Linked DNA regions of Homo sapiens. The protein of the gene in region 1 purifies or fractionates together with the protein of each later gene. This does not show direct contact. Each region holds a gene or a part of one and is shown on either strand. Other genes may lie near its edges. The genes, in order: KCNE3, RIOK3, SLC20A1 and DNAJB4.

What was found.
Region 2: the proteins of KCNE3 (region 1) and RIOK3 purify together in Homo sapiens (co-immunoprecipitation; 2 studies listed by BioGRID and IntAct, with this or other methods). This does not show direct contact.
Region 3: the proteins of KCNE3 (region 1) and SLC20A1 purify together in Homo sapiens (co-immunoprecipitation; 2 studies listed by BioGRID and IntAct, with this or other methods). This does not show direct contact.
Region 4: the proteins of KCNE3 (region 1) and DNAJB4 purify together in Homo sapiens (co-immunoprecipitation; 2 studies listed by BioGRID and IntAct, with this or other methods). This does not show direct contact.

The regions. Positions count from the first base shown.
Region 1 is NC_000011.10:74,457,514-74,464,549, forward strand, and holds part of KCNE3 (potassium voltage-gated channel subfamily E member 3), read right to left. Parts: exon of another isoform or gene 6,749-7,036; intron 5,343-6,748; exon of another isoform or gene 5,169-5,342; intron 4,620-5,168; exon of another isoform or gene 4,591-4,619; 5' UTR 4,442-4,590; intron 91-4,441; coding exon of another isoform or gene 51-90; coding exon 1-50. UniProt on the Homo sapiens protein: Ancillary protein that functions as a regulatory subunit of the voltage-gated potassium (Kv) channel complex composed of pore-forming and potassium-conducting alpha subunits and of regulatory beta subunits.
Region 2 is NC_000018.10:23,463,271-23,470,306, forward strand, and holds part of RIOK3 (serine/threonine-protein kinase RIO3), read left to right. Parts: intron 1-696; coding exon 697-842; intron 843-935; coding exon 936-1,043; intron 1,044-1,248; coding exon 1,249-1,358; intron 1,359-2,862; coding exon 2,863-3,006; intron 3,007-4,128; coding exon 4,129-4,256; intron 4,257-7,036.
Region 3 is NC_000002.12:112,655,938-112,662,973, reverse strand, and holds part of SLC20A1 (sodium-dependent phosphate transporter 1), read right to left. Parts: intron 5,853-7,036; coding exon 5,733-5,852; intron 4,150-5,732; coding exon 3,880-4,149; intron 3,771-3,879; coding exon 3,212-3,770; intron 2,588-3,211; coding exon 2,402-2,587; intron 1,833-2,401; coding exon 1,748-1,832; intron 111-1,747; coding exon 1-110. UniProt on the Homo sapiens protein: Sodium-phosphate symporter which preferentially transports the monovalent form of phosphate with a stoichiometry of two sodium ions per phosphate ion. May play a role in extracellular matrix and cartilage calcification as well as in vascular calcification.
Region 4 is NC_000001.11:78,007,939-78,014,938, reverse strand, and holds part of DNAJB4 (dnaJ homolog subfamily B member 4), read right to left. Parts: intron 1,889-7,000; coding exon 1,320-1,888; intron 1-1,319. UniProt on the Homo sapiens protein: Probable chaperone. Stimulates ATP hydrolysis and the folding of unfolded proteins mediated by HSPA1A/B (in vitro).

The DNA.
Region 1 (7,036 bases):
ACGGCATGCAGGCTCTCATACCAGGTCTCCGTTCCATTGGTAGTCTCCATAGCAACAGGGATTGAGGTGGGGGAAGACTCGGTAGAAGCTCTGGTGGCAAAAGAAAAGAGAGAGGGGATGGCTCTGTCACCTGCAGCTCAAATGACCTCCTCCCTTCAGATCCCAGGTAAAATCTTAGCATCATGGCTGATATGGTTTGGCTGTGTCCCCACCCAAATCTCATCTGGAATCATAGCTCCCATAATCCCCATGTGTCATGGGAGGGACCCAGTAGGAGGTAACTGAATCATGGGGGTGGGTTTTTCCCATGCTGTTCTCATGATAGTGAATAAGTCTCACGAGATCTGATGGTTTAGAAAGGGCAGTTCCCCTGCACCTGCTCTCTTGCCTGCCACTGTTTAAGATGTGCCTTTGCTCCTCCTTTGCCTTCTGCCGTGATTGTGAGGCCTACCCAGCCGTGTGGAACTGTGAGTCCATTAAACTTCTTTTTCTTTATAAACTACCCAGGCTCAGGTATTTCTTCATGGCAGTATGAAAATGGACTAATACAATAGCTTATTCTAGCTGCTTGATTACATGTTTGTCTTCTCCATTAGACCATACACTAAACAATAAGGGCAGGGCCTATATTTGTTTTACTCACTGCTATATGCAATCACTTATGACAGCATTCAATAAGTAAGTACTCAATAAATAATTGTACAACAAAGCCTTCCCTGACCATCAGAACCCATATTAATCTCTCCTTTCTTTGGTTTCTATAAATCACTGAACTTTAGATTAGAAGGAACTTAAGGATTATTTAATATAACTCTTGCCATTTTATACACAGGGAAACTGAGGCCTTGAGAGAATAAGTGGCTTGTCCATGATCACAGAATATTGGAAGTAGAGCCAAGACAGAAAGCCCTGCTCTTTGTGGCTAGCTTAGAGCTGCTTCCACTTCCATGCTAGCTCTCAGCAGGACTGTGCAGCACCATTAGAAGACATTCATCACAACTCTCCTTGAGCACAGTTCTCTTTAGACTGCACAGACAGGTTGGGCACAGTGGCTCACGCCTGTAATCCCAGCACTTTGGGAGGCTGAGGCGGGTGGGATCACTTGAGATCAGGAGTTGGAGACCAGCCTGGCAAATGTGGTGAAACCCGTCTCTACTAAAAATACAAAAATTAGCTGGGCGTGGTGGTGAGCGCTTGGTAATCCCAGCTACTTGGGAGGCTGAGGCAGGAGAATCACTTGGACTCAGAAGGTGGAGGTTGCAGTGAGCCAAGATAGAGCCACTGCACTCCAGCCTGGGCCACAGAGCGTGACTTTGTCTCAAAAGAAAAAAAAAAAAAGACTCCACGGACACCTTTTGGAAGACACCTGGGGATGGTTTAAATTTCATCCTGCCTGGAGGCCAGAAGCTGGATCATTTGCCCTCTCAAGCATCCTGTGTCCCAAAGACTAGATATTCCTAGCTATTTGTAGAAATTCTGTTGGAAAGAGGTGGTCAGGGAAACGGGAACAGGTTGGTAACCACTGCAGGCACTGGAGAAGAGAACAGCAGCTTGGGCCTGAGGGCGGGAGAGTGAAAGGAGTTCTCAGTCTGGCTTGGGGTTTACCTGCCCACAAAAAGAAGACACAAGCACGCCAACTATCTTGTCTCCTGAAATAAAGTCATTATGTACCTGGCATATAGTAAGTGATTATAAATGTTCCTTTCCCTTCTTCTCAGAGATCCTTAGTCTATAATATAGAAAACATTTTTTTTTTTTTTTTTTTTGAGACGGAGTCTCACTCTGTCGCCCAGGCTGCAGTGCAGTGGCGCAATCTCGGCTCACTGCAAGTTCCGCCTCCTGGGTTCACGCCATTCTCCTGCCTCAGCCTCCCCAGTAGCTGGGACTACAGGCGCCCGCCATCACGCCAGGCTAATTTTTTTGTATTTTTAGTAGAGACAGGGTTTCACCATGTTAGCCAGGATGGTCTCGATCTCCTGACTTTGTGATTCGCCCACCTCGGCCTCCCAAAGTGCTGGGATTACAGGCGCCCAGCCAGAAAGAACATCTTAAAACAGACTTGCATCCTTGTCTCTGAAAAACCATATGTAATTCCCTATAAACAAGGCCCCACACTCACTTCCTTTAGGAAGCCTCCATTCAGTGCTCCCCACCTCTCAGCCACACTACACTGCCTTTATCATCACAGCCTTCCCTTCCCCCCAGCACTTACATATAAGGCAATATGTGGCTGTCCTCTTGTTTTTGATAAGGATATCATCAGACCACATGCGTCTGGTCAGCAGGGCTATGTCTCTTACCCCAGTCTGGAGGACTACCCTGAGACTGGGTGTTCTCCTTTCCCAGGGCACTACCTTGAGACTGGCTGGGTATTCCCTTTTTCTAGATTGGCTGGGTGCTCTCCTTCTCTCAATAGTTTCTAGTAGAGATGTTCACTTTAAGGAATTCTCTATGGGCCAAGCATTCAGTCCTCCATCATATGGGTAGAACTGTTAACAAACTAATATGTGACTATTAACCATAAGATCTCTTCCCTGGAAAAGATGATCATTCTGACTATGAAAAATATTCATCAATGGCTCTATGAACACAATCAGCCAGGACTGGGCAGCATTTCATGCAAGGCCTTTGGGGCCTTCTGACATCTAGTACTTGTGCTGCCTTGTCTGGATGGAGGAGGGGAAAAGAACAAGAGCTCACTGAGTTAAGATCCAGGAGATACACGTTCTCATCTACTACCCCATGTGTCAGGCAAGAACTCTGTGGCTGCTGCTTCCCTCGTGTGGGCCAATAGCAAGTAGGAGCAGCATGATGAAATAAATAACTCAAAAAATAATCTAGATAGTTATCACCAATATGGGCCACACCCTGTGATGGGAGTTCGGGGTGGCTCAGATCCAGTGCCTTCGCCCAGGGGCTCTGATACAATGCAGGGGACAAGCAAAGAGCTACTAAGGCTGAAAGGAATAAGTGATGGATACTGATCAGGGCTCAGAGAGTGTCCACAGTGATGGAGGCATTTGAGTTGGACCTTGAAGGGTTTTTAAGAGGCAGAAAAGATGAAGGAAACATGAGCAAAGGCAGAACAAGAAAGTGTGTAAATGTTTAGAAGAATGGAAAGTAGCATAAAGAGGTTGGAGTGTAAGATGTGTGGAAGAATAGTGTAGGATGTGGGGCAGGAGAGAGAGGATCCAGATCATGGGGGGCCTTGAGTGCCACGCTGTAGAGTTGGAACTTTATTCTGTAGCTAGGGAAAAGCCATGGAATGGTATCTTAAAAGAAGATAAAATGGTCAGATCTGTGCCTGGAAAGGATACTCTGGCTGTCATGTGGACTGGAGGGAGCTGGAATTGAGGCAGTGAGCCCAGCTACCAGAGTCTTGAAATAGTTTAGTGTAAGATGCTGAGTCATGAATTGGGGCAGAGAGGATAACAAAGTAGGGAAGTGGGGGTAGAGACAGTCGTAAGACCTGAGGAGGAAATGGCTAAGTGAGGGTTGAAGGAGGAAGGGGCCTCAGGCAATTTCATAGGTAGACAACAAACAAACAGTGTAAGTGTCTTGATGAGCCTACTCTGAAGGAAATAAGTTCCTTTCCCTGGGTGGGCTTTGGTTTCCTCATCTACCAAAAGACATTATCATGGAGTTGTTGTATGGTAGGTATAGAGTTTCAATTTTACAAGATGAGGAGATTCTGGGGATCTGCTGCACAACAAGGTGAATCTAGTTAACACTACTGAGTGTACACTCAAGAATGACTAAGATGGTATATTTTTATGTTTTGTGTGTGTGTGTGTGTGTGTGTGTGTGTGTGTTTTAAGCACAATTTTAAAAAATAGGCCAGCTGTGGTGCCTCACTCCTTTAATCCCGGTACTTTGGGAGGCTGAGGCCAGTGGGTCACCTGAGGTCAGGAGTTCGAGACCAGCCTGGCCAACGTGGAGAAACCCCGTCTCTACTAAAAATACAAAAATTAGCCGGGTACACGCCTGTATTCCCAGCTGCTCAGGAGGCTGAGGCAGGAGAACCGCTTGAACTCAGGAGGTGGAAGTTGCAGTGAGCCGAGATCACACCACTGCACTCCAGCCTGGGCAGGAAAGCAAGACCTCTGTCTCAAAAAACAAACAAACAAACAAACAAAAAACCCCACAAAGAAAGATGATCATCCTTTCCCTCCTCCTTCAAGGCTTGCTATGAGCATATACTTGTATTATGTAGAAGAGGATTAAAAACTTTTTTTTTATTTTCAAGAAGCAAATATGTACACATAGGTTTAAAAAAAAAAAAAAAGAATGGACGCAGCACATACAGTGAAGGTGAAAGCTCCTAGTCGTCCCAAGCTCCATCCCAGGGCAGGGCAGTTACCATTCAGTTTTCTTAGGTATCATTGGAAAGGGGTTTTAACTGACAGGGAGAGGGAGGGAAATCTCAATCTGGAAGACTCACCAGACTGCTGGCAAATCCACTGGCTCTCAGTCAGTTTCAGGAGTCCCTTTGTGGACACACTAAGGCTCCTCCACCCCCGAGCCTCTTCAGGATGTCTCTGGACACATCTGGGATCTCAGTATTGACTTCGGAGCTGGGAAAGCCCAGAGCTAGAAAGCAGGAGAGAAGGCAGAAAAGGAAGGAACCAGACACAAAGCACAAACTTCAGAACCAGGGTGGATTGCCCAAGGCCAGGCCCCAAGGATTATGCAACAGTCCTGCTGTGGGCTCTGACCCCCTCCCATGGCCCCTCCCCTTCCTGCAGCAGCTGGGTCAGGCCAGCCTAGGGTTGCAGTTAAAGGAACTGTGCAGTGACCAAAGGGCCTCTGATTGCTGTCCCCTACCTCCAGACTTACAGTGTCTTCACTGGGTGACTTCATGAGAAACCTGTTTAAAATGTGGACTCCCACTCAGGGACCAGCTGATGGTGCAGCCTAAAACATTCCCTTTCCTAAGGGTTACCTTAGCAAGGTCCTTTTCGAATCCCAAGGGAATTGACATGAGTGGGAGAATGCCAACTGGCAGCTGGGTTGATATTTTACATAGGAACAAATGATGTGTTACCACCCAATCTATTCAGATAGACAGGATATGAACACGGTCACAGAATGAACACTATCTGTAGCATAGCTTTGTTGTGAAAATTAAAGAACATCATGTAGTGCTTGGCACTAGACACTGCACATACGGTGGTTGTTTTTGTAGAGCAAGGCTGGAAGGGCCTTCAGAGCCCATCTAGGCTATATGCCCTCACTTTACGGTGAAGGAAATGGAAACCAGGGGAGTTGTCCCAGCTCAGCTGCTCCTTGTGTGACTTTGGACATAAGACTTCCCTTTTCTGGGCCTCAGCTTCTGTCCGCATCTGTAAAATGAAGGGGTCTCAGTTGGTTCTAACGTCCTGTGATGATACGAATCATGAAACCATGCTGTGAGACCATGGGAAGTTGGAGAGGCTGATGGGAGAGGCATTTTGGGGGCTTTCTAGAGCTTCTCAAATCCCAAGATAGAGAAGGCTGTGGACCTCTTCCTCACAGGTTAAGATGCTTCTGAGCCCTGGGACTGACTGACATCTAATATCCCAGTCGAGCCAAACTGAGAGATTTACTCATTTTTCCTCTTCACAGCTCACCTGCCAGGATGATCTAGCCTGAGGAGGGGATAGACTCTGCAGAAGGTGGGGGAAGGGGACAGTGTGGAGGGTAGGGTGGGCTTTGAGGCAGGGTTCCATGAGGGGAATAAAGATTCATGAGACCTTTCATGCCTCAGGGTCTCTCTGAATAGACTAGGATGTTTGTGCTTCTGACAGGAGGAGGAAAGGGGCCATAGTTCCACATCTCTAGGTGCTGGGTTTGTATGGGAGGGAAGGCTGGGGTGCCAGGGCCTCCTGTCTGCGTTAGGAGAGGCAGAAAGCTGATGAAGGCACAAGTTGGTTCTCTATGGGGCTCTGGGGCTGCCTCTGGGGCTCAAGCTGGGGACTGGCAGTCAGCAACAGGGGAGTTTTGCCACTGTTTCTGAGCTCCTTGGCTTCCCTGTCCAGGAGAGTCCCTGATTACTGAGATCCTTGGATGGGGGAGATGGAGCTCCTGCCCTGGAGAGGTCTTGCCTTGAAATAGAAGATAGGCCAGTGAGGAAGGAAGGTGAGCAGATGGCCAAGCTGAGAGGGACTTTAAGGATCATCTAGAATCTAGATTCCAGGCCAACCCCTCCATTTCGTAGATGAGGAAACTGAGGCTCAGAAGGGAGAAGTGACTAGTCCAAAATGACATGGCCCATAAATGGCAGCACTCAGACAAGAACCCAGGTGTTTGGGCTACTGTTCAGGTGCTCTTTCCACTACAAATGGCAGTGTTTCCTCACACCTAAGCTTCACATCACACCAGACACAGCCTGTTAGTGTCATGGGGCATCATCTCCTCTAACTTCGTCACTATGGCCTTTTCATGCACCACAGATTCTCGCCAATCTTAGTCAATGATCCAGTGAGATGGAGGTTGGTAAGCTTGGGAGGAGGAGTTAGACTTCGTTTATGCTCTCATCTTCCATGCACCCCACTGCTCCAGACCTACTCCTGATTCCCCAGATGAGCCAGGTTCACTCTCTGTTCCTGCTATTTCCCATACATTCACAGGTTCTCACAAACTGCACTTGCCTTACACTTGTCCAACCCCTAACTTGGAAGTTGGGGAATAAAGCTGTGATCTGAGGGATGAACTGGGGATCTTAGTGGGGTTTTCATTCAGGTTGCTCTGGGGAAAAGTGAAACTCTACCCTTGGGTCTTTCTTTCCCGTCACTCCGTTTCAGCTACTCTTTCAGAATGAGCGTCTTCAGTGTCTGGAAATGAAGTACAGAGAGGTAGGTAGAAAAAGTCACATAAAGCAGGTAGGTGATCCAAAGACAGTTCCTGGGGTGCACAGTTTTACCACTGTCCCCTTGGTGGTCTTACCACTCCTGTGGATTGGAGAGCTGGTGGAGTGGGAGAGGAGTTGAAGGAGTAGCCCTTAGCATCCAGTTGGAAGGACAAAGGAATAGAATCTGAGCTGGAAGAGATCTTCATG
Region 2 (7,036 bases), on another chromosome or scaffold:
TCTGTGGGTTTTAGTTATATCGCGTTAATGCTGCAGTTGAACTAGATGAGGTACAGTTTTGATCAAGTGTTTGTAGTTTATCTTTTCATGAATATGTATCTATTCTTTCATTATGGATGAATGAAACATCCAGACTTTCTTTTTTTTTTTTTTTTGGAGATGGAATTTCGCTCTTGTTTCCCAGGCTAGAGTGCAATGGCACAATCTCGGCTCGGCACAACCTCCGTCTCCCGGGTTCAAGTGATTCTCCTGCCTCAGCCTCTCGAGTAGCTGGGATTACAGGCATGTGCTGCCACGTCCGGCTAATTTTGTATTTTTAGTAGAGATGGGGTTTCTCCATGTTGGTCAGGTTGGTCTCGAACTCCTGACCTCAGATGATCCGCCAGCCTCAGCCTCCCAAAGTGCTGGGATTACAGGCATGAGCCACTGCACCTGGCCTCATACTTTCATTCAGAACAAATGAATTCTAGGCCTCAGTTTAGCTTTCTCTCCCAGTTCTCTTAATCCTAGTTGGTACTCCCACAGGTGCATGCCATTGGTCTTAAGGCTAGCTGTGCAGGAGAAGGTAAATGGTTTGATAGAGTTCTTTCCCATTGTTCAATTTTAACATGGAAAAGGCACCTCCTACTCTCATAATTGGCAACCTCTGTTTACTTAAGCACATTACATTAGTTTATATTGCCTTATTTTGAATAGTGTTGCTGAAGGACCATTTATTACTGGAGAAAACATTGATACTTCCAGTGACCTTATGCTGGCTCAGATGCTACAGATGGAATATGACAGAGAATATGATGCACAGCTTAGGCGTGAAGAAAAAAAATTCAATGGAGATAGCAAAGGTATTATAACCTTATTGTGACAACTTCATTGAGTGGTAGAAAACACTCATAATGTGCTCCTAAGTAAATCTTCAACTATTTTTGCTTCTTAAGTTTCCATTTCCTTTGAAAATTATCGAAAAGTGCATCCTTATGAAGACAGCGATAGCTCTGAAGATGAGGTTGACTGGCAGGATACTCGTGATGATCCCTACAGACCAGGTACCAAAGTTTTTACTTTCTGGGGGCAGCAGAATAGAGGTATAGGAAGACTAATCTTTTCAATGAACTCTTTTAGTTTTATATTTTTCTTTGAATCTCATTTGGTAATTTACTCTTAGATTCAAATGTCTTTTCAGACAACGTTGAATGCAGCAATGTAGTCTTTGCTATTTTTATATACCTGGCTTATTTCAATTGCCTTTAGCAAAACCGGTTCCCACTCCTAAAAAGGGCTTTATTGGAAAAGGAAAAGATATCACCACCAAACATGATGAAGTAGTATGTGGGAGAAAGAACACAGCAAGAATGGAAAATGTAAGTTACAGAAAGTATCTATCTCTGAATTTAGAGTTTTGTTTGAATACCTTTCAAAAACAGGATTCTAAATATAATACCTTAGATTTCTAAAAATGTCTTTCTTTCTAAAGATGTTTTTAGATAACAATATGGCAATATCATGGAAACTGAGACATTAATGAAAATATAAAGTACCTCAGAATAAAATTCCATAACAGTGTTGAAAAACTATTTTGACTCACATTGATTCTAAAATTAATAAATAGTTATTATGAAATTAACATTTATTCTTCATCATATCTCTATAAAATAGCATCCCTACCCAAAAAACAGATAACGGTGGCGATTGGGGAATACAAATGGGAGGGAGAAATACTTTTCACCATATACTCTTTTGTGCATTTTGAATTTATTATCTTGTGCCTGAACTACCTGTGTAAAATCAGAAGTAAAGTGTAACTTTAAAAAATAGCATTCTAGGCCGGGCATGGAGGCTCATGCCTGTAATCCCAGTATTTTGGGATGCCGAGGTGGGCAGATCACCTGAGGTCAGGAGTTCAAGACCAGCCTGACCAACATGGAAAAACCCCATCTCTACTAAAAATACAAAATTAGCCAGGCATGGTGGCGCATGCCTGTAATCCCAGTTACTCGGGAGGCTGAGGCAGGAGAATTGCTTGAACCTGGGAGGCAGAGGTTGTAGTGAGCCGAGATCGTGCCACTTCACTCCAGCCTGGGCAACAAGAGTGAAACTCTGCCTCAAAAAAACAAACAAAAAAAAAGCATTCTAAATCCTTCATAAATATTGTGGTTAATATAATATATTAAACATTTAGATTTTAAAGCACAAATGCTTGTTAAGTAAACATATTCAATTATATCATTTCTAGAAATATTCCAGATCTAATTCTAGAAGAGTTCTGTCCAATAGAACTTTCTGTGGTAATGGAAATGTTCTGTATGTGTGCTGTTCAATATGGTAGCCACATTTGCTGTTGAGCACTTGAAATTTGGGTGGTATAATAGAGGAACTGAATTTTTAATTTAATTTTAATTAACTTAAATATCCAAGTGTGGCTAGTGGCTACCTAACTGAATTGCACAGTTCTAGAACATAATTGTCATGGTGTGAACATAGTCTGCTATAACAACCCACTCTCCACAAATAATTACAAAATTGTATTTCTTTGGTAAGATTTGGTGTAGCCTTCACAGTTCAATATTGTGTCCTTTGGCTAAAAGCAAGGTACAATGCACATGCCGAAAGACCTTAGTTTTGGATGTGATGAAATGTTTTCTATGCCTGGAATAAATGCCTTCCTTTGGGTTGTAATTTCTTAAATAGTATTGCTCCTCTTTCTGTGAGTTATTTAATTTTTTTCTCTGTAGTAGCTATGATTTCTGGTTTTCTAGTGTGATCATCTATTGAGTAAGAAAGACTAATCTCATTTGGTTGTTTTTGTTTTTGTTTTTAACTGTCCCTATTTTAAAATATTTAGATGCTAATTCTTCCTTTTGGCAGTTTGCACCTGAGTTTCAGGTAGGAGATGGAATTGGAATGGATTTAAAACTATCAAACCATGTTTTCAATGCTTTAAAACAACATGCCTACTCAGAAGAACGTCGAAGTGCCCGCCTACATGAGAAAAAGGAGCATTCTACAGCAGTAAGGATTTATAGATTTTTTTTTTTCTTTTTTACTAGAAAGATTCATATTAGAAAACTTTGGGTAAAGAAAAAAAAACTTCATGTTTGATATTTTTTCATGAGATTGGCTTTTTAAATCAAAGATGTAAATAAATCCAGCCACTGTGGTGCCCGCCTGTAATCCCACTACTTTGGGATAGCAGATGGAGACAGGAGGATTACTTGAGCCTAGGAGTGCAAGAACAGCCCAGGCAACATAATGATCCCCAGCTCACAAAAAAAATTAGCTGGGCATCATGGCACACACCTGTGGTCCCAGCTACCCGGGGGGCTGAGGTGGGAGGATTGGTTGAGCCCAAGAAGTTGAGGCTGCAGTGAACCATGATTGTGCCACTGTACTGCAGCCTGGGTGACAGATTGAGACCCTGCCTTAAAAAAAAAAAAAAAAAAAAAAATGTAAATAAGCCAGGTGAGGTGGCTCCCAGCACCTTGGGAAGCCAAGGTAGAAGGATCGCTTGAGCCCAGGAGTTCAAGACCAGCCTGGGCAACATAGGGAGACCCTGGGAGACCCTGTCTCAGCAAAAGTTTTAAAAAATTAGCCGGGCATGTTGGTGTGCACCTTTAGTCCCAGCTGCTCAGGAGGCTGAGGTGGGAGGATCACTTGAACCCAGGAATTTGAAGCTGTAGTGAGCCATAATCATGTCACTGCATTCCATCCTGGACAACAGAGTGAGACCCTGTCTCTCTCTCTGTCTCTAAAAAAAAAAAAGATATTAGGCCAGGCGTGGTGGCTCACACCTATAATCCCAGCACTTTGGGAGGCCAAGGCGGGCGGATCATGAGGTCAGGAGTTCGAGACCAGCCTGGCCAACATAGTGAAACCCCATCTCTAGTAAAAATACAAAAATTAGCCAGGTGTGGTGGCGGGCGCCTGTAATCCCAGCTACTCGGGAGGCTGAGGCAGGAGAATCACTTGAACCTGGGAGGTGGAGGTTGCAGTGATCAGAGATGGTGCCATTGTACTCTAGCCTGGGTGACAAGAGCAAGACTCCGTCTCAAAAAAAAAAAGTTATTAGAAGTGGCTCAGAAAATATTTTGTGATTAGCAGTCATTTTCACTTACAGTGCTTTATCTCTTGCAGGAAAAAGCAGTTGATCCTAAGACACGTTTACTTATGTATAAAATGGTCAACTCTGGAATGTTGGAGACAATCACTGGCTGTATTAGTACAGGAAAGGAGTCTGTTGTCTTTCATGCATATGGAGGGAGGTAAATGAGCAAAATATGATACCATGATATGAAAACTTAGTCTCTTCTCCCCAAGATTAATGAATTTACACAGAATCAAAGATAATGCTGCATGGCAAGCAGAGTAATTTTTAAAGTGTTATTGTAGAAAGTCTAGGCAGTATAGGAATGTATAAAAAACACAGTCATCCTAATACCACCACCCAGAGATAATCATTAATAATTTTGGGTAGACTTCTCCAGTTTTTTTCAATGCGTATATTATTATTATTATTATTATTATTTTTTGAGATGGAGTTTCACTCTTGTTCCCCAGGCTGGAGTGCAGTGGCGTGATCTTGGCTCACTGCAATCTCTGCCTCCCGGGTTCAAGCAAGGTCTCCTATCCCAGCCTCCAGAGTAGCTGGGATTACAGGCACATGCCACCACGCCTGGCTAATTTTTGTATTTTTAGTAGAGACAGGGTTTCGCCATGTTGGCTAGGCTGTCCTCAAACTCCTGACCTTAGGTGATCCACTCGCCTTGGCCTCCCAAAGTGCTGGGATTACAGGCGTGAGCCACTGCTTCCGGGCTTCCTCATCTTTATCAGTGTTTAGTATTATCAAATCTAATGCTTTTTGTCAGTGTGAGAGATGAAAAGTAACATCTTGGTATTTTGGTGTGCATTTATTTAATTATGATTAAGTTGTACATTTTTTCCAAGTGCTTTATTGGCCATTTGTATTTCTTTTTCTTGTCTTCTCTCTTGTTTATCCTTTGTCCATTTTCTGTTATACTCAATATACTCCTTTTTTTTTTTTTTTTTTTTTTTTGGGAGATGGAGTTTTGCTCTTGTTGCCCAGGGTGGAGTACAATGGCGCAATCTCAGCTCACTGCAACCTCCATCTCCTGAGTTCAAGCGATTCTCCTGTCTCAGCCTCCCAAGTAGCTGGGATTACAGGCACGCACCACCACGCCTGGCTAATTTGTGTGTTTTTAGTAGAGATGGGCTTTCACCATGTTAGCCAGGCTGGTCTCAAACTCCTGACATCAGGTGATCCACCCATCTTGGCCTCCCAAAGTGCCAAGATTACAGGCGTGAGCCACTGCGCCTGGCCTGGTATACTTAATATACTCTAATATAATAAATGTTCAGTCTTTCTGGTGGAATTGGTATCATAATCTGTACTTTGACATTTCTAAGTTAGCAAAACTAGAGAACATTCAGTTTTCTACAGCTAAAAGTTAATGCTTTTAAAAGTTTGTTAGTTTTCTGTGGTACATAATAAATTGCCACAGACTTAGCAGCCAAAACAGCATCCATTTATTATCTCATAGTTTCTGTTGACAGAATCCAGGCATGGCTTAACTAGGTTCTCTGTTCAGGGTTTCACAAGCCTGCAGTCTAGGTGTTGGCCAGGCTGTGTTCCTTTCTGGAGCTTGGCGTCCTCTTCCCTTGGCCACCTTTCAGTTGCAGCTATACGACTGAGGTCCCACTTTCTTGTTGGCTGTCAGCAGTGGGCTGCTCTCAACTCCTTGAGGCCCCTGCAGTTCCTTGCCATGGGGCCGTCTCACAGGCCTCTTCACACACTAGCTCTCACACTTTCAAAGCCAGCAGGAGAATCTCTCCAGTCTGCTAAGACTGAGACTTAGTGTTATGTTATCATGGGAATGACTAGACCATCACCTTTGCCACATAACCTAACCAGGGAGTGGCTATCCCACACATGCTCAAGGGAAGGAGGTATTATACAGGGGTGTGCACACCAAGGGGGCTGGGAGTTTTGCTTTCCACAAAGCTCTGGTTCCTTTCTTTCTTCCTCTCTCTCTCTCTCTCTCTCTCTCTCTCTCTCCCCCTCTCTCCCCCTCTCTCCCTCCCTCCCTCCCTCCCTCCCCTCCCTCCCCTCTCTCCTCTCTCCCCTCTCTCCTCTCTCTCTCTCTCTCTCCCTCTCCTCTCTCCTCTCTCTCTCTCTCTTTTTCTTTCTTTCTTTCTTTTTCTTTCCTTCTTTCTTTTTTTTTTTGAGATGGAGTCTTGCTCTGTCACCCAGGCTGGAGTGCAATGGCGCAATCTTGGCTCACTGCATCCTCTACCTCCCAAGTTCAAGTGATTCTCCTGCCTCAGCCTCCCCGGTAGCGGGGATTACAGGTACACACTACCATGCCCGGCTAATTTTTGTATTTTTAGTAGAGACGGGGTTTCACCATTTTGGCCAGGCTGGTCTCAAATTCCTGACCTTGTGATCCAACTGCCTCAGCCTCCCAAAGTGCTGGGATTACAGGCGTGGGCCACTGTGCCTGGGTCAAAGCTCTGGTTTCTGTCACTCTCAGGTTGGTCAGGCAATCAACAATTATTCAAACAGTAATTTGTGCTAGATTACTCAGGGAATAAAATATAAGACATATTTTTTACTCTCAAAGAGCTTAAGCTTTAGCTAAAAGGAGAACATTACAGTAAGAACCATTATGGTCAATGAAAGATAATTACATAATAGAGTACCCAGTTATGCAAACGAGACCTTATATGGGATAGGAATAGCGAATAGAACAAGATCATTGCCAGGCACATTCAGGGAAGATATCATAATGAAGTTGGATCTCAATCTGGATTTTAAAAATAGGTTAAAAAAAGAAATCCGTTGGAGGACCGATGGGGGCGGATCACGAGGTCAGGAGATCGAGACGATCCTGGTTAACACGGTGAAACTCCGTCTCTACTAAAAAATACAAAAAAGTTAGCCGGGCATGGTGGCGGGCATCTGTACTCCCAGCTACTTGGGAGGCTGAGGCAGGAGAATGGCGTGAACCTGGGAGCGGAGCTTGCA
Region 3 (7,036 bases), on another chromosome or scaffold:
ACTCCAGAAATGGGGACTGTGACAAACCAGGCCATAAAAATGTTACGAAAGAGACGCCAGTCAACAGCCTTCTTGGACCGGAGCCAGCCAACAGACACAACAGAGCCCACCTAGAAGAGAAGCAGACCAAGGAAACAGGTTATTGAAGTGCCAGTGGTATTCTGGCAAACAGACACCTGAGACTGTTTGGACAAGGAGCCCCAGACCCCTGGACAAGACAAAGTCCAAGAAAGCTGGTTTACAACAGGTTAAGCTGGGAAAATGAAGGCAATTTGAAAATCCAATCATAATCTATACTAACGGTAGTAAAAGGACACAAGAACTATTTCTTTTCCCCTTCTCAGCTACTGCTAAAATTTAATGAATATATACTGCTTTTATTTATTTATTTTTTGAGACGGAGTCTCGCACTGTCGCCCAGGCTGGAGTACAGTGGCGCAATCTTGGCTCACTGCAACCTCCACCTCCTGGTTTCATGTGATTCTCCTGCCTCAGCCTCCCAAGTGCTGGGATTACAGGCACCCACCACCACGCCTAGCTAATTTTTTGTATTTTTAGTAGAGATGGGGTTTCACTATGTTGGCCAGGCTGGTCTCAAACTCCTGACCTTGTGATCCACCTGCCTTGGCCTCCCAAAGTGCTGGGATTACAGGCATGAGCCACTGCACCTGGCCTATACACTGCTTTTAATAACAAATTGCATTGTAAGTCTTCCTAAGATTATTTACAGAGTGGCTGATATTAAACCTAATAAACAATTGTCTGGAGACACATCCGGGTAGCAAACAGATGACTCAGCAGGATCCATGATGGACCAGCTTAAATGCTCTTAAGGAAACCAGTTTCTTCCTTCTCCTATAATTATTAGATTGTCATCAAACAACCTTAAGATTTGTTTTGTTTCTCAGTATTTCAATCCTGAGAGGCCCTGAAATATGCCTTCTGTAAATAAACTGCTTTGCCAACATTTTGGCAAGCCTCACAGACTTGTTAGAACCAGGCCTTCAGCCACCACAAATGGCAGCAGAAACCCACCTGGCCAGAATTAAAGCACCTGCCAGTTTCTAAGCATACACCTACCCTGCTCTGAATGGCTTCCCCAAAGGCAAAGAACATAATGCTGTCGGCCGGGCGCGGTGGCTCACGCATGTAATCCTAGCACTTTGGGAGGCCGAGCCAGGTGGATCACCTGAGGTTAGGAGTTCATGACCAGCTTGGCCAACATGGTGAAATCCTGTGTCTACTAAAAATACAAAAATTAGCCAGGCATGGTGGCGGGTGCCTATAATCCCAGCTACTTGAGAGGCTGAAGCACAAGAATCACTTGAGCCCAGGAGGCGGAGGTTGCAATGAGCCGAGATTGTGCCACTGAACTCCAGCCCAGGTGACACAGCAAGACTCCAACTCATACATAAATAAATAAAACATAATGGTGCCAAGTAGAAATGACTCTTGAGATTAAAAAAAAAATTATTATAAAGAGACTACAATGAGGGAGGATAAAGTAACAAAGGAAGAGGTTAGTAGCCAGAAACTACAGTAAGCTGTATATAAAACAATGTTTCTATTATTTGGGGAGAATATCTATTTAATTGCTTAAATAAGAATAAACACAAGAAATAACTTATGAACTCTTCAAGACTCCAACTGCACAAAACTTTCTAAATCAAAGTATCAGAGAAGTAAAACTAAAAACCCTACATATTAGAAGAACCATTTGAAAGACACACATTGGCATTACACTTACTTTACAATGTGTTGTACTGATGGGAAGGCCAATATTTGATGCAATCACCACAGTGAGGGCAGATGCCAGTTCAATACTGAAGCCACTACAGACACAAAAGGATTCTTGTCAGGAAGTGAGTTTGACTTTTTTGAGAAGCTAACACTACACCTCAAGTTAACACAGTCCTGCTTTGTTCTACTCAGTCACAAAACCTCCACTGACATCTTTATTTGCTATAACCCCTAAGATCTACTTTATTTAAATCAGGCCACAGATGCCCAGTTTCCTTATTCAAAGGCTTCCAGTTTTACGTTTTTCTGGAATCCCACTATTAAATAAAATTTGCACTTTTATTTTGAAGAGTTTGGTAAACATTGAGTCTTAGCTCCCAAGACAAATAAAAGGCAAGTATACATAACTATCCGCTCTTAGCATACACAGCTTTCTCAGAAAAGTCATTTTCTTCAGAGACCACCAGAGCTAAATGGGTAAAATGTCTGACCAAAATGTTTAAGGGCCAGACAAGTAAAATCTAAAAAGAACAATGACAATAAGAACATCATGAACTTATACAAACTTGGTTACTTTAGAGATTTGTGTTAGCACTCGACAGTGTTATATCTCTGAAAAAAATGAGTACTGACATTTGTAGAACCTGCTCCACCTACTTACCTAGAGGGTGTGATCGGTGTCAGATCCTTCCCCATGGTCTGGATAACTCTTCTTCCCCAAACCCACAGACCAACACAGATACCAACACCACCATAGAGTAGAAGCCATATTGGTGTTGCCACTTTTGAAGAAACATCTCCTGTGTCATAAACCAAATATAAAGCAACCAGAGGCCCAATGGCATTGCTGGAAGAAACAAAGAGGGCAGAAGTGACTTTTCAGGCAGAACTAGATCTTGGCAAGACCCAATCTGCTGAATGATCTACCAGGTTGTCTAAAGTACAGCTTTCAAGCTCATCTGGCAAAAGGGCCTTTCTTTCTAAAGACATAAATGGAACCCCAACATACACAACAGAAAAATGAACACAGCTCTGATGGAGGGAATGCCAGGCAAATGGTGGCCTCTTTCCTCCTATAGGCAGCTTAAAGCAACTCTCAGGTTCCAATAAACAGTTTACAAACCAAACTACAAAATCATTCTATATGAAAAACTTTTAAGTTTTTCATCTTACATCTTACATCCCACAATTCACTACCAAAGAACTGAATCTCATCTTGATGGACAAAAGCCTTCTCTGTGAAGAGTATCTGTTTATATTTATCATCTACAAAAATAAACATTCTTTGTAATTCCTCTGAAGAATAAAACTGTACTGTCTTATTATGTCAATAACTGCTATTACCTCATCCTATTTGTATTATTTGGGGTCCTGTAAATGCTAGGAGTACCACTACCACAAGCACAGGCCTGTGACAAGGATAAATGGTTTAAAAATAGGGTTAGCAACACTAAGATCAATGTCAACTGACCTTACGTCATTGCCACCATGGGCGAATGACCCAAAGCAGGCTGTAAGGATCTGCAGGAACTGGAAGAGGAGAGAGACTTCAGGCTTATCCTGGTCATACCATTCTTCTAGAGAGCCATTACTTCCTTTTCTGTCACCTAGACCCATCTCTGCCTTGACACTCATGTCTATCTCAGATGCTGAGTGAAGGTCAGACACAGCATTGCAGTAACTGGTGTAACTGTCCATTCGAATTCGCTTCTTGGAGTCTGCATTAGGCCATGTCAGCTTCTCCATTTCTTCGCCCTTCTGTTCACCTTCTTTGGCACGGAATGAATCCAGAGGCATGCCACATATTGCCATGGTATAGGAAGTATAGCTATTATTGCGCCTTAAGGGTTTGTCACCGGAGTCTCCCATGCAATCTCCCACCTTGGCAAGATGTAATTTATGGAGTAGCTCTTTGTACAGGCCGGAATCCTTATGCACGGTGTGATACTGGTAGTGGCCACTGGAGTTTATTTGGTTGCTGACGGCTTGACTGAACTGGACAAGGTTCCCATTAGGCAACTGCACTGCACCTAGTCAAGATCACCAAGGTGACATTCAATACAAAAAGCATCAAATCCAAAACAATAAGCCTCCTCACCACTGCAGGTAACAAAAGTGAAACCAGGAATTCCAACTCACCATTCACGGTGCTATCTATGCTGGTTTCCTCTTTCAAGTCCACGCTGGGAAGCCTCTCTCTCTCTGGAGCTTCCTCCAAATCTCCAAGTTTGAATGAGACTGTTCTCTCCTCCACCACAGCCTGGAGGGGCACAGTGGCAGGCCCTACCTCAGAAACAGGATGCTTGTTTTCAATATCACCAACAGACAACTTTGTTTCTTCATGGTCTTCTTTCAAGCTATTCTTTTTTTCCATTAAGGGGCTTTCAGAAGGACTACACTTTATTTCTCCTAGGAAAAAAAAGGGGGGTCTTTTTTGGTTTGGTTGTGGCCATACTACTTTGTTCCACGTCTCCTTTCCTCCACCCCCAAAAAACTCATCTCAAAACAAGAATGTATGTGAACTTCAATTAACATTCAGGAACATTTTTCCTGCCTGCTTTATCATTTGCCAGCAACTCTCACTTGGGAACAACCAGCAATGCAGAACACCCTATGTCAGGGGTCCCAAAATTTTTCTGTAAATATTTTAGGTTTTACGGGCTTCTGTAGCACATTGTTGTTTTGTTTTTATTTTTACAACCCTTTACAGATATAAGAACCCTTCTTAGCTCCCTGCTGACTCATTCTGTAGGGGAAAGTAGCTCAACCATGGGGCTGATAAGCTGAAACTAAAAATCTGAACTGTACCCAATTCTATTCTTTTCAAAAGAGGATTCTCTCAAATTTCAGTCCACCAATTCAAGCAAAGTGGCACAGCTCAATGCAGGGAACTAAAGACGACAACTTTAATTTCCACCTCTATAAAACAAAGAGATGTGCATCATGGCTGTAAATCCCACAGGCAGACCAGAGTATCTTCTGCCTCTCTCATGCCAGTGCTCAGTATGCTGACCTATCCATCCAGGCACCTCAGTCAAACTACAGACTGACTAACATAAAGCAAGACTTGTCTCAACTCCTCCCAGAGAGGGAAAATGAGGCCAGAGAGTCCTGAAAGCCTGGTTCCCACCGTGCACTCGGCACAGCCAGACTAGCACAGAACCTCTCGGAGGCTCTTCGGTTCAGCTGCGGTGACGCAGCGTTCTTCCTAACACCACTGCAGTCTATGCATCCCTCAGCTTCGAAACGATAAACTTCAACTTGCTAACCCAGCCTTCACATCGATGAAAAGGGCAGAAAATGATTATTTTAAGGAAAAAAAAGTCCGATACTAACCAAAATTTACTCAGTATTTAATTACATGAGTGTGTGGTAATGGCCTAAATGATTCCTTGACACTTGAAAATGTTTACTTCTAGAATCTGTGCTACAATTCTAGCAGACACACAATGTGTGTTTGTATATGTATTTGCATTGTATACTGCAATACAATGTCTACATGTATTCTAGCCTATATACAACATGTACACATTAGACTTAGCTTTGCTTGTCTGAATCTGAAGTTATACACAGAAGCAGTTGGGGTAAATATTTCCTCTACGAAAATATCTTGTATCTACCCCTTATTTTTCATTAAGGTATCCTTCTACTTCTCAGTAAATGTAGGCTATGATTTCTCTATTTATCTATCATGTCACTGGCAACTGATCAAGGAACATAAAAAAATTCAATGCCCCAGATTGTCTCTACAGCATAGGTTGAATACTCTTTATCACTAGGTCTTAGGTCATGTAAGTCCATTTTTAAGAACAGGTCTTAGGTCATGTAAGTCCATTTCTAAAAACAGTTTGGACAACAAACCCATATCCTCAAATTTCCCTTTAAAATCTCTTATTTTGCCAATCTCTTCTAATAGATTTTTACAGGTGGCCAAATAAAAAATAAACACAACATTAGTAGTTAAACTTTTCTGCTGTTTAGTTATTACTTACGTTCAATTTTTCTCTTCATCCTGGGACATACAAAGAACCAGACGATAAGGGCACAGAAAACTGCACATCCCACCGAGATGAGGATGGTACCCCACAGAGGAAGTTTGTCAAAGCCCAGCACTAGGAGATAAAATGGTGCATCTTGAAAACCCCAGGGCAACAGCCCCCTGCAATATTGTGTAAACCCTCCTCTGGGGACTGAGGGGTTCCCCATACCAGCCCATCACCCCTGACAGCTGCTGCCAGATTTAAGTGCACAGGATTACTGTGCTAGTGCCTATACAAATTTGGGAGAAAAACTCAATGATCATCTGAAAACCCACACCAGCCTAGCCCACTTGAACACCTGCGGGACTCAAGTTCCTATGCTTCTCAACATACGAGCCTTTTCCTTTCTTCACCTTGGAAGATAATAAAGATCACTACACGCTAAGGACCTATGACTAGCTATGAAAAAGACAGCAAGTGTTCCACTCTCCTAGCTCATGATCGTAACTGCCACATATTCCATTACCACCTACAAACTTATTTTAATGTTAACAGAATGATGTCTCAGTAGTCACATTTGTCATGCTGACACAATTCTGTGTAAAAGTGATTACATTCACTATACTGGCCTTTAGTAAAATGCTTTAATGAGATTATCTCCTTGAAAGCAGTATCAAAGCAAGATACAGAAAACAAGGATATTATCTATCAAAAGTTGATAATTTAAGAATAGTTGTAAAAGCTTTGTCTTTCAGCCAGGCACGGTGGCTCATGCCTGTAATCCCAGCACTTTGGGAGGCCGTGGCAGGCAGATCACTTGAGGTCAGGAGTTCGAGACCAGCCTGCCCAACATGGCAAAACCCCATCTCTACTAAAAATACAAAAAAAAATTAGCCGGGCATGGTGGTGGGCGCCTGTAGTCCCAGCTACTCGGGAGGCTGAGGTGGGAGAATCACTTGAACCTGGCAGGGCGGAGGTTGCAGTGAGCTGAGATTGCGCCACTGCACTCCAGCCTGGGTGACAAAGTCAGACTTTGTCTCAAAAAAAAAAAAAAAAAAAAAAAAAGTTTTGTCTTTCTCACACACAAAGTTTAGTGGTAATTTCACTTACAAGTCTTACCTTAAAAAAAGACTTGCCTAGCAACACTGTTCACATGGTTTAAGAATGAGTAATATTAGTCATTATCTGACTGTCATATGCACGCCAGTAGGCTCCAAACCATTAGCCTGTACTAAAGACAGAAGTAAAGCACTGGCCAGGCACAGTGGCTCACACCTGTAATCCCAGCACTTTGGGAGGCTGAGACAGGTGGAGCA
Region 4 (7,000 bases), on another chromosome or scaffold:
TACAGCTCAAGTATACAAGATAATAATAGAGCAAACTGGGCCAGGTGCGGTGGCTCATGCCTATAGTCCCAGCACTTTGGGAGGCCGAGGTGGGCGGATTACTTGAGGTCAAGAGTTCAAGACGAGCCTGGCCAACATGGTGAAAACCTATCGCTACTAAAAATATGAAAATCAGCTGGGCATGGTGGCGGGCACCTGTAATCCCAGCTACTCAGGAACCTGAGGCAGGAGAATTACTTGAACCTGGGAGGTGGAGGCTGCAGTACTAGCTGAGATTGTGCCACTGCACTCCAGCATGGGTGACAGAGCGAGACTCCATCTCAAAAAAATAATAATAATAATAATAGAGCAAACTTGGGGAAGTGCATATACATTTTATGGGTAGACATCAGATTTAAAATGACTTATTTTAAGCTAAAGAGTTTGGACTTTATGGTAGAGGTTATATAGAGCAATTTAAGAATTTGAAGCAGGGAACTGCTATGACCATATTTGCAAAGTTACAATCCAATTTGAGAAATAGTACAAATAGGCCAGGCGTGGTGGCTCATGCCTGTAATCCTAGCACTTTGGGAGGCCAAGGCAAGTGGATCACCTGAGGTCAGGAATTCAAGACCAGCCTGGCCAACATGGTAAAACCCTGTGTCTACTAAAAATACAAAAATTAGCCAGGTGTGGTGGGGGGCGCCTGTAATCCCAGCTACTTAGGAGGCCGAGGCAAGAGAATCACTTGAACCCGGAGGCAGAGGTTGCAGTGAGCCGAGATTGCGCTGTGGGTGACAGAGCAAGACTCTGTCTCAAAAAAAAAAAAGAAATAGTGCAAATAAGAACTCAAATAATAATTGTATTAACATAGTAGCATTATAATTTATAAATGTATATATTTATATGCACTTATAAATGTATTTTTTATTAATATAAATGTATACAAATTTGTAGTGAATTATAAATTATTTTCTTCTAATCTTTTTTGGTATGCAATTATTACTCCATATTAACAAATTTAGAACAAACCCTATATACAAAGACTAATGTGTTGAGATTACCAATGCAGATCTCATAAACCACATTTGTAAAAGCAGCCTCATAGTACATAATCCAGTTAACACTTGACACTTTAATTATAAGTAACTAAAGTTAGAAAATATAATCACATCCATAAAAGAGGTATAATACTAGTACTATCTTAGAGGATTTTTATAGTAATTATTTTTAACGTATAATAGGCATTAAATAAATGTTAGCTATTATCTAGATACACTCCCTATGATCAACTACATAATTATTTGGTCTTAGGATTTTAGGTCCTACCAACTTACCTCTCGTAAACTAATTTTAGCAGTATAAATTATATTTGATCCATCCCTTTTAAATTTTGGATGATCTTTGTCTTTAATGATAAAAACAATGTCTGCTGGAATACTATTTGGTGTTTCATCTCCTTCTCTTGGAAAAGTAATTTTGGTGCCTTCTTTCCACCCTTTTTTAATCTCAATGGTAAGAATTTTGTCCTCAGATCTGTAACTCCTTCCATCAGCGTTTAGCCTTTTTCGAGAAATCTTCATCCGTTTGGTACAACCACTATATATCTCTTCAAGTGATACTCTAAGTTCATGAATAACTGGAGGATCTTGTTTGAGGCGGGATGGCCCCACAGAATTCCTGTCTCTTGGATATCCATTCATGCTGAAACCAAAGGCACTAAAAGGATCACCATCTATTTCCATTTCTTCAGAATCTCTACCACCACCCATTCGTCTTCCAAAGAAAATTTCAAAGGGGTTGGACCCTCCGAAAAATGCAGCAAATGTAGCATGAGGATCGCCATGAAAGGTGTACCGGAAGGTACCTCCTTGTCCATCAGTACCTCCTGCTCCTCCTTTCAACCCTAATTGAAGAGATAAGCATGATTAGAAAAAAGCTTGCAACTCTTAAAAGTTAAACTTTCAAAAACTGTATTGCTAATAAATTTTGGCTAACTTACATTAAAATGTATTAATATTGGCCAGAAATGCCACTTTACTAAATACAGAACAGCTATAAAACTCTTGATGATTACATCCTAAGTTAAATTGTTAAGTTTTCAAATTCTTCCTCCAAATCAGCATTTTTGTTTGTTTGTGTTTTTGAGACAGAGTTTCGCTCTTGTTTGCCCAGGCTGGAGTGCAATGGCGCAATCTTGGCTCACCGCAACCTCCGCCTCCCAGGTTCAAACAATTCTCCTGCCTCAGCCTCCCGAGTAGCTGGGATTACAGGCATGTGCCACCACGCCCGGCTAATTTTGTATTTTTAGTAGAGACGAGGTTTCTTCATGTTGGTCAGGCTGGTCTCGAACTCCCAACCTCAGGTGATCTGCCTGCCTTGGCCTCCCAAAGTGCTGAAATTACAAGTGTGAGCCACTGCTTCCGGCCAAATCAGCATCTCTAATATTTATTCCTGATTCTTTGTTCCACGGGTAAGTAAGAAAAATAAAATAAGGCCGGGCGCAGAGGCTCATGCCTGTAATCCCAACACTTTGGGAGGCCGAGGCAAGCAGATCATGAGGTCAGGAGTTTGAGACCAGCCTGGCCAACACAGTGAAACCCCGCCTCCACTAAAAATACAAAAAATTAGCCAGGTGTGGTGGCAGGTGCCTGTAATACTAGCTACTCAGGAGGCTGAGGCAGGAGAATCACTTGAACCTGGGAGGCAGAAGTTGCAGCGAGCTGAGATCGCACCACTGCACACCAGCCCGGGCAACAGTGTGAGACTCTGTCTCAAAAAAAAAAAAAAAAAAAAAGAAAAGAAAAGAAAAAGAAAATAAAACTGGGAACTCCTTATAAACTACTGATCTGGCATGCTGAAGTATATAAATTATATAAGTATCTACTTATAAATATATAAGTTTTTAAAAGATGTCAGTTGGAAGGTCTTCAGCAATCAACACAAAGTGCAGAACTTAAATCTTTAATTTTTATTACAATCAAACAATATATATAACATTTAAAAATATAAATATATTAATAAAATATATAGCAAAATATAAAATACCATATTCATACTGTTTATATATAAATAAAATAGAAATATGTAAAAATATAATGTAATAAAAATACCATATTCATTCTAACTAGTTTTATTTCAGATCATCTTTTACTGTTTAGGAATTAAAATAGGGCCAGGTGCAGTGGCTCACACCTGTAATCCCAGCACTTTGGGAGGCCGAGTCGGGTGGATCACTTGAGATCAGGAGTTCGAGACCAGCCTGGTCTACATGGTGAAACCCCGTCTCTACTATAAATACAAAATTAGCTGGGCATGGTGGCACATGCCTATAATCCCAGCTACTTGGGAGGCTGAGGCAGGAGAATCGCTTGAACCTGGGAGGCAGAGGTTACAGTGAGCCAAGACTGCACCATTGCACTCCGGCCTGGGCAACAGGAGCAAAACTCCATCTCAAAAAAAAAAAAAAAAGAATTAAAATAGAACTCTGTGTCAGAGAGTGAAAAAAATTCTAATAATGAGGACATTCTATGAAAAATGGTTTTTTAGACACTACGATTGTCATTCCTACTCTAGATACCAAATTTTTTAGGCATATCACATCTTAGCATTAATTTCAATGCTTGTAAGAAGACTGAAATCAAGAGCTGTAAACTTTGACACGTAAGGCCTCTATATGGGTTATTTCTGTCTCTTGTGAACAGTCCACCTCAGGCAACAATATAGTGACTTTTTGACCCTTTGCTTAAGGGTTCCACTAAGTAATATTTAACCCACAAAAGATTATATTTGAAACAACATTTTCCACTATGAAAGAAATGTTCTACTAAAACTCAAAAAACAACAGTATGGTGATCTTTTAAGGGGTCAATACAGATCAAGAAACAAGCAGGAAAAGAATCTAAAAATCATAAAACTATGAAAAATCCAACAGATTAAGCTAGGAGATTCTAATATCTCCAAACAGTGAGTGATTTGAAGGCAGGAAATATATTTATTTTGCACTGCTCATGCATACAGGGCTGAAAATGGTAGGTATTCATGCTTAGTGAATGAAGGGAATGAACTAATTCCTAAAGTCCTTCTAAATCAAAACTAAAAAAGGTGTCTTGAGTATCGGTACAGAGAAAAAGGCAGAAGCAAAAACAATGTAAAATATAATCACACATATACATATATGAGAGATTTAACAATTTAAAATGCCACTAACACACAGCATACTTTAAAGAAACTTAGTTTTGCTTACGTCTTATTCTGCATTTGGCTTCTTCCATTAAAAGGTATATATCTACTCTATTTCATCTAACAGGGTCTCAAGTGATATCTAAAATTTTTACCTTCATCCATGAATAGAAATCTGGAGAGATCAAGAGAGACCTAATAATCTGAAAATTGCCAAAATATGTATTGAACAATATATCCAAATAGCAGTTAGGGAAATTCCTTGTAGAATGACAAGTATAAGCAGGACAAGATCTTTTCATAAGCAGCTCATCCAAATTTCCCTTTTATAAATTTTAGTAGTATAATTATAACTCCAAATGTTAAAAAGGTAATGGCAGATTTTTTTTTTAATGATAGAATAATATGTAGCTCAAGGTCATGACCAAAGTGACTCAACCAATGCTTAAATTATTTAAATAATTTTATCCTTCATCCCATAGACTTAAGGGAGTATAATTATTTAACTGAGTTAAGTAAACTGGGTAAATCAGCCTGCCCAATCTAGCCTCTTATAAGACAAAATTTAAATACTTGCACCCATAATGAATTCATGAAAAGAAAGAATAATGTTTTAATTTATTACATCATGGGTTTGGCTTTCTGGAAAACCTCTTCCTCCTCTGCCAAAAAGGGCAATTCGGTCATAATTACAAAGTCTCTGAGAAGATTCATACAAAGTCTGAAGTAACTTACCAAAGCTGATAAAAAGACTCCAATGCAGCTTTGAGGTTTTCCTAGACACTATTAAACAGTCAACTATGCAGCTCAGACAAAGAACGAAGCTACTCTAATGAATGAAAAAAATCCTAGGCTGGGCACAGTGGCTCACACCTATAATCCCAGAACTTTGGGAGGCCAAGGTGGGTGGAGCATGAGGTCTGGAGTTCGAGATCAGCCTGACCAACATGGTGAAACCTCGTCTCTACTAAAAATACAAAAATTAGCCAGGCGTGGTGGCGCACGCCTGTAATCCCAGCTACTCAGGAGACTGATTCTGTCTCAAAAACAACAAAAAAAAGAAAAAAATCCTACCAAAATTCATGCCACTTTAATATACATTATTATGCAAGTATCACTTGCATTGTCTAGCACATAAAATTATAAGTAATGTCACATTAACTATATGGTCAGTTCTTAATCATGTACATTTTGAACGCTAATGGAAATGTTTAATATCCAATTGGATTCCCTCTGCTATTCAAAATGTTTTCTAGACATCGTCATCACTTTGTGTGATCAAAAAACGCACCAGAGAAGCAACATTTGCCTATGATTTAGCAAGACTGCTATTATTTTACAACTAACCAGTCAACCAGTTTGCAGTCCCAAACCAAATATGTGTTTGGAATACTATCTATAACAATGATTCCCACTAATTAGTTAAGGTTGACTAAAAGTTTCCAAAAGAAGAAACACTGGAGAAAAATTCAGATTGCAAAGAAAAAAACATGATAATACTTTAATAACTCTTACTCCATCCAAGGAGATCTAATATGTAAAAATCCAGATTTACAGCAAGACTTCAGTTATCAAATAATGAGATTCTGAGATTTTTTAAACAGTTTTAATTCACAAAAATCAAATTTACTTACATGTTTTTAGAACACACAGTGAATTAAAAAAAATCCAGCTAGCTAAATATATAAGTTAAAGAACAGAAGAGAACTAGTATAAAGATTAATAAATACAAGTTTTATCATTTAAACACTACCTTTTAATATTTGAAGTTACTGAATAAATCATATGCAATAACAAAATAAGGAAAGCATAAAAAAAGAAAAATTAGAAAACTAGAATAAATGAGGATGTGTTATTGAAAATCTTTTCTTTTAAATCTCTTAACACAAATTTTTGTTGACATCCACTAAACTATTCAAGACTAAACCTAAAACTTTAGAGAGTGGTTCAGAATCCAATTTTAAATTTCTGTAGTTCTGTGGTTTTTGTTTTCAAATGATTCAACTATAGAGAAATTTTATTTTTAAAAAGATTTATTACATATATAAAATTAACCTATTGTACAAATACAATTCAATTGATTATAGTAAATTGATAGAGCTGTATAACCATCATCACAATCCAGTTATAGAACATTTCCATCATTCCAAAGAATTCTCTAGTTCTTATTTGTAGCTAATCCCCGCTCCCACCTCAAGTCCTAGGCAAGAAAGATCTGCTTTCTTTTTCTATATACTGGCCTTTTCCAGACATTTCACATAAATAAAATCATACAATATATAGTCTTTTACATCTGGCTTCTTTAATTTAGCATAGTTTCTGAGGTTCATCAATGGTGTAGCATGTTTCACAAATTGGTCCTTTTATTGCTAAATAGTTCCTCATTGAATGTATATAGCACATTTTGTTTAATTCACCAATTTATGGTGCTTTCAGATTGTTTCCAGTTTGGGGCTATTATAAATAATGCTGCTATAAGCATTCAGGTACATGTCTTTGTGTGGACATGTTTTTGTTTCCCTTTTATAGATTCCTAAAAGTAAATTTGAGTTATCCGTATTTTTTTTCTTTCCTTTGCTTTTTCTAGAGGTAGGGTCTTGCTATGTTGCAAAGGCTGGACTCAAACTCTTGGGCTCAAGCAATCCTTCAGCCTCAGCCTCCCTATTAGCTGAGACTACAGGCATATGCCACCTCACCCAGCTAGCCAACTGTTTTTAAAACAAAGCATTTTAAATTGTGAATATTCAGAACACAAATATACTGTGTTCTGGATTACTGGTTCTTTCACTCCTAAATACATAAATTTAGCATATGCAACTTACATACTTTTCAGTTT